Linked DNA regions of Homo sapiens: all the other regions are linked to region 2. The links come from fine-mapping of genetic effects on gene expression. A gene starts in region 2. Each other region holds a variant in brackets. All regions are shown on one strand. Distances are from middle to middle. Region 1 overlaps CHLSN (cholesin). Region 2 holds the start of GPR146 (G protein-coupled receptor 146). Region 3 overlaps CHLSN (cholesin).

What was found. PIP is the estimated chance that this variant, and not a neighbour inherited with it, causes the effect. A credible set is the group of variants that fine-mapping cannot tell apart.
Region 1: its variant is the best candidate, but not a certain one, in a credible set for the expression of GPR146 in whole blood (TOPMed, PIP 0.56).
Region 3: its variant is the best candidate, but not a certain one, in a credible set for the expression of GPR146 in whole blood (TOPMed, PIP 0.90).

The regions. Positions count from the first base shown.
Region 1 is chr7:1,104,921-1,107,673 of GRCh38, reverse strand. All of the region lies in intron 2 of CHLSN (cholesin), which reads left to right. Among named protein-coding and RNA genes, the nearest start is that of GPER1, 18 kb to the right of the region's middle. The variant G/A (reference allele first, on the strand shown) is at 1,337.
Region 2 is chr7:1,042,997-1,045,749 of GRCh38, reverse strand. GPR146 (G protein-coupled receptor 146) reads right to left here and starts at 1,204. Exons shown (of 2, transcript NM_001303473.2): 1 at 1,092-1,204. All of the region lies in intron 2 of CHLSN (cholesin), which reads left to right. RefSeq lists silencers at 705-754, 935-1,424 and an enhancer at 1,530-2,085.
Region 3 is chr7:1,077,857-1,080,609 of GRCh38, reverse strand. All of the region lies in intron 2 of CHLSN (cholesin), which reads left to right. CHLSN-AS1 (CHLSN antisense RNA 1) reads right to left here. Exons shown (of 3, transcript NR_187853.1): 3 at 2,548-2,753. Among named protein-coding and RNA genes, the nearest start is that of GPER1, 8.9 kb to the left of the region's middle. The variant T/C (reference allele first, on the strand shown) is at 1,671.

The DNA of each region.
Region 1 (2,753 bases), 62 kb before region 2:
GTCACGGTGGTACAGTTGTGGGGAGAGAACCCCTAGTGTTCATAAGATTGTCAAAAAGAGTTCAGAGCCCTGTCCAGTAGTTCTGTCTTGTTGACTGAGCTTTTGGCATGTGCTTTGCAGCTTGTGGGCAGCATGGTGTTGGAAGCCACGGCGAATTCTGTGATTGGGAGACAGAACCTTCATCTCATGGTCTTATTCTCTGTAGAGTGGGAAGAAGCTACCAGCTTCCCTGGGTTAAGAAGCAGGAGGCAGAGTCATGTCTGTTGGTGGTTCCACAGTCACTGGCTTCTGTGTAGTGGGTTCTTGGTAAATGGCAGTTTTCTCTCTTTTTTGCAGATGGGACCGTATTTGTTGACCCGTGCATAGCTGGGTGTCTGTGAGCGCATCATGGGCTCTCTCCCATTCCTAGGCGGGCTGTGGAGTGCCCACTGAGCTTGGGGATAGTGGGTTGCAGACAGGGCTAAGCGGCAGTTTTTCCGGGTGGGTGTTGGCCTTGCTCACAGTGCACATGGACACATGGCTTCCTCTGTGGCTCTTTCCCTTCCCCGCTTCTCTTCATGGTCCTGCAGTACAGAGCATTTGAGCTTCCTTCCTTCCCGGAGTCGAGTCTGCGTTCCTTCCAGGCAGAGCTGATGCTGGGCGGGCAGGCAAGGAGGCTGGTGCTGGCAGGGCTGCGCTTCCCCGTGGCCTGGTGCAGTCCCAGCAGGACCTGCTGTTGGGGGCTCCTGGCCGTGGTCACGGTGGGCAGGGAGCCACATCCCTCTGTCCGGCCTGGCTCTGCACCACGGTTTGGCTTCCTCTTTGTGTGTTCACCTGGCCCAGCTGCCCTTCGCCACTGCAGAAACAGCACGGAGGGAAGGGGGCGGCAGATTCAGACTTGAGGTCAGTTGGTCTTTTGGGAGCTGGGAGCACAGCCAGGGATTCCCTCCGGCAGCACCGGCATCTTCTCTGGTTTCTTTTCTGGCCGCACCCCACAGCCAGTAAGCCCTGTCTTGTCTACCTTTGAAATACACCCTGAGTGGGGCCCTTCTGCCTGCCCCAGGCCCGTCACCCTCACCAGGCTGCACCTGTTCTCCCGCCTGCCTGCCTTTTTGCTCATGTGGGCCGGGCTCCTCCTGACGTGTCAATCCGTCTATGCTGCCAGCAGACTCTGTGGAAGCTCTCGGCCCCTCCAGCCTGAGTCTGGCCCCTGCCTGCCCCTCTCCACGTTGATCCCCTCCTGCATCCTCTCCCTGCCACGCTGTCCTGGCCTCTCTTGGCTCTGTCCTCTCCCCCACACGGCACCCAGAACACAGGGGCCCTCAGAAGCGCTGGAAGGACGTGTCTCTGGGGTTTC[G/A]CTCTGGCTGGGTCTGGATGGCCCTCTGATGCCCAGACACACACACCCTTGAGTCTGTGCAGGGACCAGGTGGCTGTCTCTGTTGGGCAAGTTGGTGGTGGCATCCGCATGTGGAGAGTCCGCGTGGCTGGCAGAGCCCGACAGCTGAGTGCTCGGCCGGGCAGTGTGCGGGACTCGAGGATGGGAGCGGTGAGCAGCGGGTAGAAGCTACTTCTGCAGCATCTGCATGATGCATGCCTTGGAAACACTCTGCATTTCCCGTTCGTTTCCTAAATAAACAGCATCGAAATCATACAAGGAAAAGTTGAGCAAGGAAAGCAACTCCCTCTGCCCCTTCACCTCTCTCCTCTCCCCTCCGTGTGCTCCTCTCTGTTCCTGTGATATGGACGCGTCTTTCTGACACGGCCGAACTCTCAGCATAGATTTGATTTATACATGGTCTTTTAATATCATTCTTAATTTAATTTTAAAAACAAAGCCTTTTCCTCCTCTTTTTAAAAGTAAAACACACCCATTATGAAAAATACAGAAAACATGAAAACATTTAGAAAGAGAAATGTTAGCCAAGCGTGGCGTGTGCCTGTAATCTCAGCTACTCAGGAGGCTGAGGCAGGAGAATTGCCTGAACCCGTGAGGCGGAGGTTGCAGTGAGCCGAGATCACACCGCTGCCTTCCAGCCTGGGCGACAGAGTGAGACTTCGTCTTAAAATATGAATAAAATAAAGAGAAATATTTGGTACATTTTCACATGCTTGTAATTTTTTTTTCTAAGTATTTTTAAAAGCATGGCTGGCCTCCTGGTTTTGCACATAGTGTCACCACAGTAATCTGTGGAGTGAGTAACGATCAGCGTCTCACAGTTCATTGATTCCTTTGCTGCTTTTGAGACTGAACCACAGGCCACCCCATGAGGCAGCCCCTGTTGTTCTCAAGCACCTGCTCTTAGAGGCTGGGGCGTCACCCTCGGGCTCCAGAAGCCTGTTCCACAGCCGGCCGGCGGCAGAACCGGGCCAGCACCCTGGGTCTCCTGACTGAAGCTGTTTCTGGGGCTGTTGTCTTCTTGGCGTTCGAAGGGCATGTCAGTTGGTCACCATATTGAAATTGCTGGTCACAGTATACGTTTGGTATTTTAAGCTGAAGTGAGATTTTATTCCAGAGGTGCCCAGAGCCTGTGGCTTGTCCATGCTCCTGCCCTGGCCCTTTTACCCAGGATTGTAACACCTCTTCCTTCATGACAACTATTTTTCTTTTATAAAATTGCGATACATAGTAAGAAAATAGAGAGTGCAGAAGAGTAGTCTTCCTGTCTGTCCCTCTCTTCTACTGCGATTATCTCCACTTCCTGACTGTTCAAAGGAAGCCTCTGAACTTACTGTTCTCAGTTAAGTGAACTAACATCACATTTATTCAAGGAAGC
Region 2 (2,753 bases):
GCCTTCTTCATTGAGGAAGACAACAGGGGTTCTGGTTGGGGAGCCAGGCCTTACAGTAGTTCTTGAAGGAGCTGCACAGCAGGTCATGGGTACTGTGAGTGTGCACTTCGTCTAATTATTAACAGTGCCTCCGTTCACTCTCAACGGTGCCCCAGTTAGGACGGTAGACTATCTCATCACCACTATGCGTGAGGAGCCTGGGAACATGGTCAGAACCATTTTACTCATACAAGTTTGCAGAGGCCTTTAAAGCAAGCCTCTTGGCCCTCTGTTATTGAATGCTGGCCTCTGCTAGGTGCTGCAGGTAGCAAAAGATAAAAGATGTCGTGCTGTTCCGTGTGGACAGGAGCTGGCTATTTAAAGTGGAATGGAGGACTCAAGTACATCTTCATGGGCAGGGAAGAGATCAAAGGCTGTGGACGACGAATACAGAATTATCCTCTGGTCCACCACGTAGCATGCATGCAGAGATAAGCCACTGTGACCAGTCACATCAAGATTCATAGACTTATGCCTAATTTAGAGAACTGACTTGCCAGGTTTGTAATACTAACTTAATAGTGGGTTTTCTGCTGCTGGTAGTGGTGGTTTGGCGGCTGGAGAGCACTGCCTTCCAGTGAAGCTTTGAAAGAGCCGTCCCATGCCCTGCCAACTGTCCAAGACAACTGACAGCAGATCCGACACCTCCATGTAGACACAGATCCAAAACTCACTTTAAAATACTAATCACAGAAGGGGCCGAAAGCAGTCACCATAGTGGCCCAGGAGAGCAGGATCAGTGGTGCCCTGTCGGACATGGGAGAGCCGGTGGCGGCGCTGTGCCGCCTACGCCAGCAGCAGATTCAGCTGCCATCACCAGGTTAATGACCGAAAGCCCGCCCCCGGGGCTCAGCTCGGAGCGCGGCCGGAGGACAGCGGTCCCCTCCTGGCAAGGGCACGGAGCCCCGCAGTGGGCAGCGGCCAGAGGACCCGGGTCCCAGTAAGCGCAGCGCCCGCCGTGGGAGCCACAGCAGCTTGGGGCTGGCTCCCTCCCCAGGCGGAGACTGGGGTGTGCCCCACCGACCCGACCCAGGCTCCCGGGCCCCACTCACCGGCTTGCTGGGCGGCGGCCGGCGCAGTCGCCGCCGGGCGGGCAGCTCGGGCTGGCGGAGGCGGCGGGGCTCACGGCGCGCACGCCGCCCGGGCCCTGTGTACACACGTGACCGTCGGCCCCGCCCCCGGCCGGCGAGCGGCAGCCATGCCTGGCCCCGCCCCCAGCCTTGGTCCCGCCCTGGCCTCCGCCCCCCGGCCCCGCCCTCGCGGCTAGACCGCGGGGAACCGCTCGGACCAGTGAGGTTGGGGGGCGGTGGCGGTGGAGGCAGTGCTGGTTGTGTAACCTGAGACCAGCCATTTGACGAACTCGTGCGAGATTCCCTGTGGGAGGACACACACCCAGGGCTCTGGGAGTTTTTGAGAATTCTCTTAGTGCCCAGCGCGGTTTCTTTTTACAGGCGCTGGTGCCTATTTTGCTGAGTCAGAATATACCCTAATCTGCAGGGTGCAGGCCCCACCGCCCTCCAAAGGAAATGAGTGGCTGCAAGTTAGTCCTTCCAGGTACACCTGCCCCTCTTTCTTCACCGAAGTTTGCTTGCTGTTTCCAAAGTCACCAATTACTTCCTGGTTTTAGGATTTTCTTTGTAAACGGAACACTCACAGGAAAGCCGTTTAAAGAAACACATTGCTGCCTGATTACTTTTGTAGCTATTGTTACAAGTTAAACATTGGAAAAGTTGAAACAAGGACATTTACTTTGCTGTAATTTTTGAGGTGAAACAGTCCCCCCTGCAGCACATTCTGGTTCAGGATCTAAGAACATTTCTGAAAATCAAAGCATGTGGGTTGCACAGTTCCGCATAGACTTGCTGTGAGCTGCGGGCCGAGTGGAACACCAGCAGGAAGAATAGCGGCCACTGGCCCTCCGCTGCATGATGCTGTGGCCTACTGTGTTCAGGGATGTACCTCAGCCACCTTCCTGGACAGGACGGCTTCCTGACCGTGGGTCGGAGTGGGACGTCGGGATCAGCTTTCTATTCCAGCGGGAGGGCAGGGAGAGGCTCACCACGGCCCACGCCTGCTGATGTGATACTGACTTGCTGCCCAGCCCGGCACCAGGTCCCTGGCACAGTGGATGCAGCCCGGGCCCTGTGTGCCCAGAGGTGCCGGGTACTGATCTTACTTGCCAAAGTCAGTCACAAGCAGCCAACACCGATACCTGAGGGCGTATTCTGTGTCAGGTTCTGTTCTGAGCCTCAACCATTGTTTTGAGGTAGATACGTCCGTATTTCATCAAACCTAAGACACGATTGATTAGTGTTAGCTATGCCATTACTTTATGGATTACTAAAAAGAAGGCCCTCTGCCCACTGCATTCCGACATACTGCTGATTTTAAGGCGCAGCCTCACATTAGAGATGATAAAGTGAGAGTACGCCTTAGCGTCAATGAGATAGGTCACCATGTGCATTTTAATATTTTTTTTTTTTAAAGACAGAGTTTCTGTCATGTTGCCCAGGCTGGAGTGCAATGACACGATCTTGGCTTACTGCAGCCTCAGCCTCCTGAGTAGCTGGGATTACAGGTGCGTGCCACCATGCCCAGCTAATTTTTTTTTTTTTTTTTGTAGTAGAGATGGGGTTTCACCATGTTGGTCCGGCTGGTCTCGAACTCCTGACCTCAAGTGATCCGCCTGCCTGGGCTTCCCAAAGTGCTGGGAT
Region 3 (2,753 bases), 35 kb before region 2:
GGAAGCACGGTGCTCGCAGGCAGCGCACAAACCGTCCTGTTCCAGACTCCTCTGCCCGTCCCTGGGTGGTCAGCCCCTCCCTCCACCCAACCTGGCGGCCGTGCGGCTGCACTCTGCTCCCGTGATCAGACTCCCCGGACCGTCACGCGGGTGGCACCTGTGCGTGTGCAGCCTCCGAGCCTGGCTGTCCCCGTGCCTCCTGCGCTTGAGATGGTGTGTCACGTCGTGCACACCAGGTGGCCGTGGCTGCTCGCCACTGAGCACGGGGGGCTGTGCCGCGGTCTGTGTCCCGCCATCGTGGGAGCGACATTTGAGTTCTTTCCAGATTGTGTCTATTATAAAGCTGCTTTAAATGTTCACATACAGGGTTTCATGTGAGCGTAATTTTATTTTGGGTGGATCGCTAGGATTGGGCATCGCTGGTTCTTACAGTGTGTGCACATTTAGCTTCATACAAAGCTGCCAAAGTGGCCACTCTGTTTTGCGTTTCTGCCAGCACCTGTCCTTCTAACCCCAGGGAAAGCAAAGGGTCCTACTGAGCCCTGGAATTCCCTGGGAGGAGGGGTTGGCCCTTCACAGTCTGTTTTGGTGGCCGGTTTCCGGCCAAGAGCCAGGGGCTTGTGGGACTCGTTCCTGAGCCACGCAGAGGGGCTGCCAAGGTCAGGTTCGGGGCCTGGGGGAACTCCCCAAAGCCGGGACCTTGAGAATTGTGTGTTCTTGACGGCAGCATGGGCCCTCGCTGCTTAAACAACCCTTCAGAGAGGTTCTAGAAAGCATGGGCGCCACTTCTCCAGGGCTGCTTCCCCAGAGCTGGGAGGCCGGGGACTCCAGTGGTGAGGGCTGGTGGCTCCTGCAGGGCCCTGGACCCTCTGGAGGGCATCTGGGAGTCACCCCTGCCCCTGAGCCCTCCCAGCCCCCGCCAGGGCCTGCCTGCCACGGGGCCCCTCAGAGGAGCTGCTGCCCCTGCCACTTCCCGTCACACGTCTACATTGGGCAGGGAGGGGGGTTGTGCAGATTCCCTCAGCACGCTGGTTTATTGAATGTTTTCCCGGCCTCTTCCTGGGTTTTATTATCATTTTTAATGGATAAGTAGTTATAGGCTGTGGTGGTAGCTCACGAAACCGTCTCCCCAGCGTAGACAGTTGAGTGGCTTCTGAACTGCTTTTCCAGACCTGCGCTTGTCTTTCATACCATCCCAGGATGGTTCACACGTCACTGTTTCTGTGCAAAAGCAGCATAAGCTTTTGAGGTCACAATTCTCGTGTGATTTGAGGTGTCCCCATAGGGAGGTGGACAGCAGACGAGCAGCCGGGCGTTGCCTGCCTGGGGACCCAGGATGGCTGTGAAGGTCTGTGGCCGCCCCTCCGCAGCCTCAGGTGTGTCCCTGTGGCCTGCGGATGTCAGCTTCGAGTGGCTTGGGAGGTTTGTTTGCGGCTGTTGACTTCCTGCTCCTCCCGTAGCCACCTTTGTGCCCTGCTGGTCTTGTGACCCTGGCCCTCCCTCTCCAAAGGCCTCGCTGCCTCCTCAGCCGGCCATTCACCAGCAGTCTTGACAGAGCCCTGACCCGCTGCCTCGCTGCCTCCTCAGCCGGCCATTCACCAGCAGTCTTGACAGAGCCCTGACCCGCTGCCTCGCTGCCTCCTCAGCCGGCCATTCACCAGCAGTCTTGA[T/C]GGAGCCCTGACCCGCTGGGGTGGGGGATGGAGCTGAGTGTTTGGGGGAAGGCTGAGCTGGGGCTTGAGGGGGCACCTGGCCAGCCAGAGCCAAACAGGTGAGCCGCAGGCTCTGCTTCACTCCATGTGCCCCTCACAGAGCTCCCAGCCTCTGTCTGGAGCAGGCACTGTCCCGGGGTCCCAGTGGGCAGGTGGGCACATGGCCTGGCTATGAGTTCTGCATGGTTGTAAGGCAGCGAAGCCCAGGTTTTCACTGGGCCAGCCTGTGATCCTGCAGACTAGCCAACCCCCCGGGAGTGCATTTGGGCCCTGTCGTGAGCATCTTGGTGGGAGTTTGAGGAGACGAGATGAACCGGCGTGGGGGGCGTTAGGCCTCGCCTGTGGTCACGGGAGTGTGGGGTGCAGGAGCATCTCACAGGACTCCCACCTGAGCGCAGCGCCTGCCTTGTGCAGAGCCTGGCTGGGGTCCCTGCTTGCTGTGGAAGATTTAACCCCAGGTCTCACGGGGCCCCCTTCCCAGGCCTCATGGGGCCCCCTTCGCAGGCCTTCGTCTTCTGGGTGGGAAAACTGATGTGCCTGAGCCCCCCCCCACCCCGCAGCTGGTGGAAAGAATCCTCCATTCAGGTTTCGGGCCCTGTGAAAATATACGCTCTCCAGGCGTGCCCACTATAGGGCACCCGCTGTGCTCTGCCACGCGAACTGTCTCCACTTCCTTGCCCTGCCGCAGAAATCCCACCATAGCTGCATATCTGGCAGCTGAGCCAAAACCCTGACGTGTTTTCTGACTGTCCGCAGACCTCGTCCAGCTCCGTCTTCAGGAGACAGGACTAGAGCCACCGTGAATCTCAGTCATTTCCAATCCCAAACGCTGTAAAAATACACCGTATTTTCTTTTATTTAATGGGGCCAATCTGTAGTATAGAGAAGCTTTCGTTTTAGGAGAGAAACTTCCCACCACTGTGAAGTTGCTCCCATGTCCCCGCACACACGCCCAGCGGTCACGGAGCAGTTGGCGGCAGAGGACGCCGAGGCCGCGCTGGGGCTGCTGCTTCCCAGAGAAAGTACACAAAGCATTTCCCTCTG